Homo sapiens: one gene and its partner. The protein of the gene in region 2 purifies or fractionates together with the protein of the main gene of each other region. This does not show direct contact. Each region holds a gene or a part of one and is shown on either strand. Other genes may lie near its edges.

Region 1 (3,141 bases), on a different chromosome or scaffold from region 2:
CACAGATTTCTAGTATCTTCAGTTTTGCTTTAAATTCAAGGAGTGGTAAAAGGGCATGGGCTCCAGGAGGTTGACAGTACCAATTGAATCTGTTCACTCAAAAGCACTTAATAAAGCACTACTAAGCAGTGGACCACAAAAGAATATGTGATCTTGTTCTTTTCCCATAAGGAACTTGCTATATAATTATAAAAACCATACTTTATTATCTTATTACCTGGAATTTGTTTAGAGCAGTGGTTGTCAGAATGTGGTCCCTAACCCCAGTGGCATCAGCATCAAGTTGTTTGAACTGTAAACCATCAGGCCTTACCCCAGACCTACTGAATCAGAAGCTCTGGGAGTGGGGCCCAACTATCTGTAGTTTATAAATCCTCTAGGTCAGGGATGTCCAATCTTCTGACTTCCCTGGGCCACCCTGAAGAAGAATTGTCTTGGGCTGCACATAAAATACACTAATGATAGCTAATGAGCTAAAAAAAAAATCTCATAATGTTTTAGTTTACAAATTTGTGTTGCACCACACTCAAAGCCGTCCTGGGTCACGTGCAGCTCACAGGTTGGACAAACTGGCTCTAGGTAATTCTGATGCTCGCTCAAGTTTGGGAACTACTGGCCAAGTAAATCTCCTCCTTCAGCAGTCTCTCTACCATAACATCAGAATTATTTCCAGTACTTTGCTTCCCTCCCAGTCCATTAATCTTTCCCCTTCCCACCCCATATCCAATGAATCAGATTCACAAAACAACCTACACATTTCAAAAAGAACATAAAACTTTATTAAGAACATCTTATACTGTCATCAGATACAGCCAAAGAAGAACGGGTAAACAAACAGGGAAAGTTCATCTTCCCATGTGCTATTGCCACCTCAGAACAGACTCCTGTGTGGATGGCTGGAACAACAGTTGGCAACAAATGCTCTGTATAAATAATTCATTAAGTAACACAATGTTTCCTTTCTATACAGAGAAGAACTGGGCTTACATTTTAAGTTTTGATATAGTGCAACAACTATGAAACAAGACTACATCCTTAGGAGCTATTTCTTAATAGAATACAAAGCAGTTTAGTAGCTTTATGTTATTTCAGATAATGTAATTTTTTTAATGAAAAATTCAGAAAGGACATTCTAACTTTCCCAATTAGTTAATTTGTACTGTTGAGTTTTTTCTCTCTAAAGATTTCTCAGAATCAGTTCAGTAACTATACTTTAAAAAGATGAGTTGCTCATCTACAGTGATAACTGACAACTTAGTTTTGTGATTTTGCAAATCAAGATGCCTGGGTCATCCCCACTTTTGCTGATTCTGAAAGATTTCTTATAGAAAAACCCTGATTCAGAGTGCATGTGATAGGAGATACCAAAATAGCTGCATCTGGACAGGGAGGTTGGCTATTGAGCACAGCTGATTCTCAGATTCCTGGTTCCCCTCTATGGTCCTTTTACTTACTGTAGTGATGGAAGGAGAGAAGGAGCGCCCGAGAATCTGTTCAGATTGTGACTCCAGACAGCTCTCTGCACTGTATGTGGAGAAAAGAGTGATGGCATCCATTCAAACCATAGCAGCCCTACGGCACCATGCTTTTCTCTTGAGGGGTCAGACCAAACTGCACTCAAAGATGCATGATCTGCCTCAGGTGCACAGTGGAGAAAACGCTCATGATTTACAATTTGGTATTATAATACCCCCAACTAATCCCATTTCTTGAGAAAATGAAGTCTTCCTTTTAGGAAGAATGTTTGCTGCTAAGGCTTACCATGTTAATTATCACACGGCTGAAAAGATGACTTCTAAATCAGACTGTATTGTCTGTGTTCAGTTAATACGTTAACCAACAACTGAAGTTTGTGGAGGATTGGTCGAGGGGTGGGATTCAGGTTTTTGAGTACTATCACTTATCACAAATCTCATCAAGCTCTTTAAAAAAATAATGCATTTTTATCATAAATATTTAGAGCAGATACTGGCATTAAAATCAGTATCTAAGTCAGAAGTCTGTCTGAAATGGTGAAAATATTTCAACAAACTTCTAAAAGATTTCAAATCTTCCCAGGAGTACATAGTTTATAAATTAGTTTTAAATGGAAAAAAATATATATTTTGAATGGATAAATCACCACTTTAGCAGATCATAAATAAGGTCAAGATATTGAAAATAAGTTAACATACAAGTTTTTGCTTTCACATTAATAATAAAAACTAACTTACTTAGTATACTTTCATAACATGTACAACCAGGTTTCATAATTGTGCATCTGTCACCTCCCCACTTGGCTGAATCTTTTTCTTCCATTTCCTACACCTAGGGACAGAGGTACACAGACATCCCAGGGTGTGAGTGTGGCTGCTGCATGCTGTGTCCTAGTTAGAGCAGTGTTACAAATGCTGGTCAGGATCTATGATTAGTAACCTGTGAACCACGTTACAAGTGAAGGACATTCATGGTTAGGTGGATTCAGTTCCCAGGTGAGCTATCAGCGGTAGTGTTAGGGAACCTAACTACTATTCTTTCTGTGAGAAAATGCACCCCAAGTCCCAAAAGTTGACTAAAAACTTTGGAATAAGCCATGTATTATTAGTAGTGCATGGATGAGCACTACTTATATGTGTCTCTGTTTTGGAGAGAGGTCAAATTGTTAAAAGAACTATTTGCAGAACTACTTGGCTATTAAAAATAAATGTCTGCCTTCTTCATATGCAATTCATTGTAACTATAATTTCTAATACTGAGAAAGAAACAATGAAGCCATTCAGACTAGAGAGACATAATTGGCTTGTGGGATTTTCAAGATGTTTTATTGACTATCTAATTTGAATCTACTTACAAAGAGAAGAAAAATGTCTAGTATGTAAAGCAATGAATGAAAATAAATGTTTATCCTAAGTCATTATTGAGTACAAATCCACAGCTTAACAATGTGTTTTTAACAGCAGGAGAGCATGCAACTGCTCTAACACACAGGGTCAGAAATAAAAGGTAAAAGTACATTTGTTTTGTAACTGTAAATATACAAATATAAAATTTACCATATCTACCCTGTAGTGTGGCACTGCTTAACTGCCAAATATACAGTCATTCAAAAACCTTAAGGAAACATTGAAAATGTCTCAGGCTACTTTACTGAACATTAACGAA
Region 2 (3,072 bases):
ACAGGCGTGAGCCACGGTGCCCGGCCTGACTTGTTATTATTTAAAAGATTTCAAGCCATAGGGAAGTCCAGCAATAGAGAAGACATAGCTGGGCCTTATTTCAGAGAATTTCTCCTGAGAGGCTGGCTGGATTCAAATCAGTGCACAGCTTTTTAGCTCTGTGACGATGAGCACGTTGCTTGAACTTTCTTTGTTGTAGGTGTCCATTTATTAATATGGGTTCATGCCTAGTATTTCCCTTTACAATTGTTGTAAAGGTTCAAACAATGAAAATGATTAAAAGGAGACTGGCACAGACTCAACCTTAAGCAATTGCTAGTAATATTGAAGGGAATTAACCACTTGTCTTTCTTACTTCTTATGTTAAGTTTTTCTTTTTCTTTTTCTTTTCTTTCTTTTCTTTTCTTTTTTTTTTTTTTTTTTTTTTTTTTTTTTTTTTGAGAGGGAGTTTCACTCTTGTTGCCCAGGATGGAGTGCAAAAATGGTGCGATCTCGGCTCACCGCAAACTCCGCCTTCAGTGATCTCGCTTCTGGGGGCATCCCATATTTTCCAAACTGCCATCCTATAGTGGGGTGCCCGTCGAGGCTGTGGGGAGACCCCGGAGAGATTTATGCAAAGGAGGACCCAGACAAATGTGCCCATTCAGCCTCTCAAGAGTGAAGAATGGAAGAGAGGGGGGCAGAGCCCTGTGTCTTCCGTGTTGCTGTGCGCAGGAGAAACATGGCCAAAGGACTGAGGTGGGGTGACAGGGACAGGCAATGCTAGAGATCCGAAGGTCACATCCTCGGCCTGTCCTTTGCACACTACTCCCTTGCTAGGCTCCCTGCTCCCGCCAATCTAGACAGTGGCGCAAGAGACTGGGGTTGCACTGGGACTCCAGGAAAGGCTTAGCTGTTGACGAAGGACCGGGGCGGGGCCGGGGGGCGGGGCGAAGGCCAGGATCTCCAGGTACCCGGAACCCCAAGGGGCGGGTGTAGCAGGCAATCTTGGCGAAACTGGGAAGGGCGGGCAGGAGGGCAGGGAAGCCGCTCACCCAGGCACAAAGCGCCTCCCGCTTGAGCGGACTCCAAAGGGACGGTCCGCGGTGTGCAGCGAGCTGCGCTCAGGGGACCTTGCGCCCGGCCCTTCTGCTGCACACAGCCCACCCAGGACCTCCCGCAGCGCTGACAGGCGGGGCGGGTGCAAAGACGGGGCGGGGTCTCTGCGCCCGGCCCCCTCCCCTGACTATCAAAGCAGCGGCCGGCTGTTGGGGTCCACCACGCCTTCCACCTGCCCCACTGCTTCTTCGCTTCTCTCTTGGAAAGTCCAGTCTCTCCTCGGCTTGCAATGGACCCCAACTGCTCCTGCGCCGCTGGTAAGGAACGCCGGGTTCCGTGCCTGGGGATGCTCGATTCCCAGACACCATAGAGAGTGTTCCTGGGTTTGAGAAGGTCGTATTTTGAGATCTCAACTGTAGGGGACTCCTTGACTTAGTCCAGTGCTTTCCTCTTGGCCAAGATCCTGAGAGCATTTCCTTCCTCTCTGTGCCTCTGTGTCAGCGTTGAGGGTACTGAGGCTCAAGGCTGTCCTGCTCCACGTCATGCGGTTTGTCCCAGGGCTGTTGGCTGAGCCCCAGTGCTCTGACCAGGCTTTGAGCAGCAGGATTAGATAGGAGGCAGGGGACATTGCCTCTTCGGGGTTCAGGACAGAAAGTCGAAGTCGCCGTCTTCCCAGGCTGTGCCTGGAGCCTGGGACTTTCCTTTGGAGTGCAAACAGGAGGCTGCTTGGCCTTCCCAGCATGAAGGGAGAGGACATGGGGCTTCTCTTCCTCTGCTCTGAGTGGGAAAGGAGCTCTGAGGGCTGGCCCCGCACAGAGGAGGGGGCAATGGAGACTCATTAACTCACTGCTGTACCTCCTGCAGGTCACTCGCCGCTCACTGGCTTTTTTTTCTCTTTCTCGCAGGTGTCTCCTGCACCTGCGCTGGTTCCTGCAAGTGCAAAGAGTGCAAATGCACCTCCTGCAAGAAGAGTGAGTGTGAGGCCATCTCCATGGTCTGGGGCTGTGGCTAAGGTTGGGATGGAACCCAAGGCTGGCCCTGAGTGCATGCTTCTGGGGAACTGGCCTTCCTTTGTCCCCGTAGGTTGTCACTGCCTTTCTAGTCTTCTGCCCTGTGCAGGGCGCCTGGGCAGCTTTCTCATAGGAAGACCCACCCCAGATATTTCCCAGTTGTCTCCTGACAAAGCCATACCCTCCTGAACTGAGGGTCCTTTGTGGCTGGAGGCTCTGTTGGGGGCCTCTGTTGGGGAGGGAGGTCCCTGGGCAAGTTGGCTGTGACCTCTCATGCTCCTCTTCTTCCCCAGGCTGCTGCTCCTGCTGCCCCGTGGGCTGTAGCAAGTGTGCCCAGGGCTGTGTTTGCAAAGGGGCGTCAGAGAAGTGCAGCTGCTGCGACTGATGCCAGGACAACCTTTCTCCCAGATGTAAACAGAGAGACATGTACAAACCTGGATTTTTTTTTTATACCACCTTGACCCATTTGCTACATTCCTTTTCCTGTGAAATATGTGAGTGATAATTAAACACTTTAGACCTGATTCTGACTTCAGTTTCCCTTATGTGCTTCAGAAATCAGAGACTGGGGTGGGGGATCGAACTAGGGTTGCAGACTCCTGGGCTCTAAATGGAAATCTGAGTCCCTAACAATCAGAGTGCATTAAGGCAAGCCAGGCTGCCTCACTGTGCTTCCTCTTCTGTAGAATGGAATAACACTTCATCAGGTCATTGGTGGGGATCCAGAATACAGGATCACCTTCATTCTCAAATGTGGCACAGAAACTTCTCAATGCCTCCTGTTCCTTCTCTGATTTCTCTGCCCAACTTCAATTCCTCTTTGGATTTCAGGTTAGAAAGTGACTACACGGAATGGAATCAAACCCCTTAGTTATTTGAATTCTACACCGGGCTTCTCAAACTCCAGGGTGAAGGAGGGGTTTTTAATTCCTATCCATTCCACATCTAAACCTTGGTAAATGAAATAATACTAATGATGGAAGTCATGAAATTAAATTCAATATACAAAATCTGGCCGAGCAGG

What was found.
Region 1: the proteins of MT1F (region 2) and RPRD1A purify together in Homo sapiens (affinity purification with mass spectrometry; one large-scale study listed by BioGRID and IntAct). This does not show direct contact.

The regions. Positions count from the first base shown.
Region 1 is NC_000018.10:35,989,072-35,992,212, forward strand, and holds the end of RPRD1A (regulation of nuclear pre-mRNA domain-containing protein 1A), read right to left. Parts: 3' UTR 753-3,141; downstream 1-752. UniProt on the Homo sapiens protein: Interacts with phosphorylated C-terminal heptapeptide repeat domain (CTD) of the largest RNA polymerase II subunit POLR2A, and participates in dephosphorylation of the CTD by RPAP2.
Region 2 is NC_000016.10:56,656,732-56,659,803, forward strand, and holds MT1F (metallothionein-1F), read left to right. Parts: upstream 1-1,227; 5' UTR 1,228-1,327; coding exon 1,328-1,355; intron 1,356-1,943; coding exon 1,944-2,009; coding exon of another isoform or gene 2,010-2,050; exon of another isoform or gene 2,051-2,051; intron 2,052-2,341; coding exon 2,342-2,433; 3' UTR 2,434-2,572; downstream 2,573-3,072. UniProt on the Homo sapiens protein: Metallothioneins have a high content of cysteine residues that bind various heavy metals; these proteins are transcriptionally regulated by both heavy metals and glucocorticoids.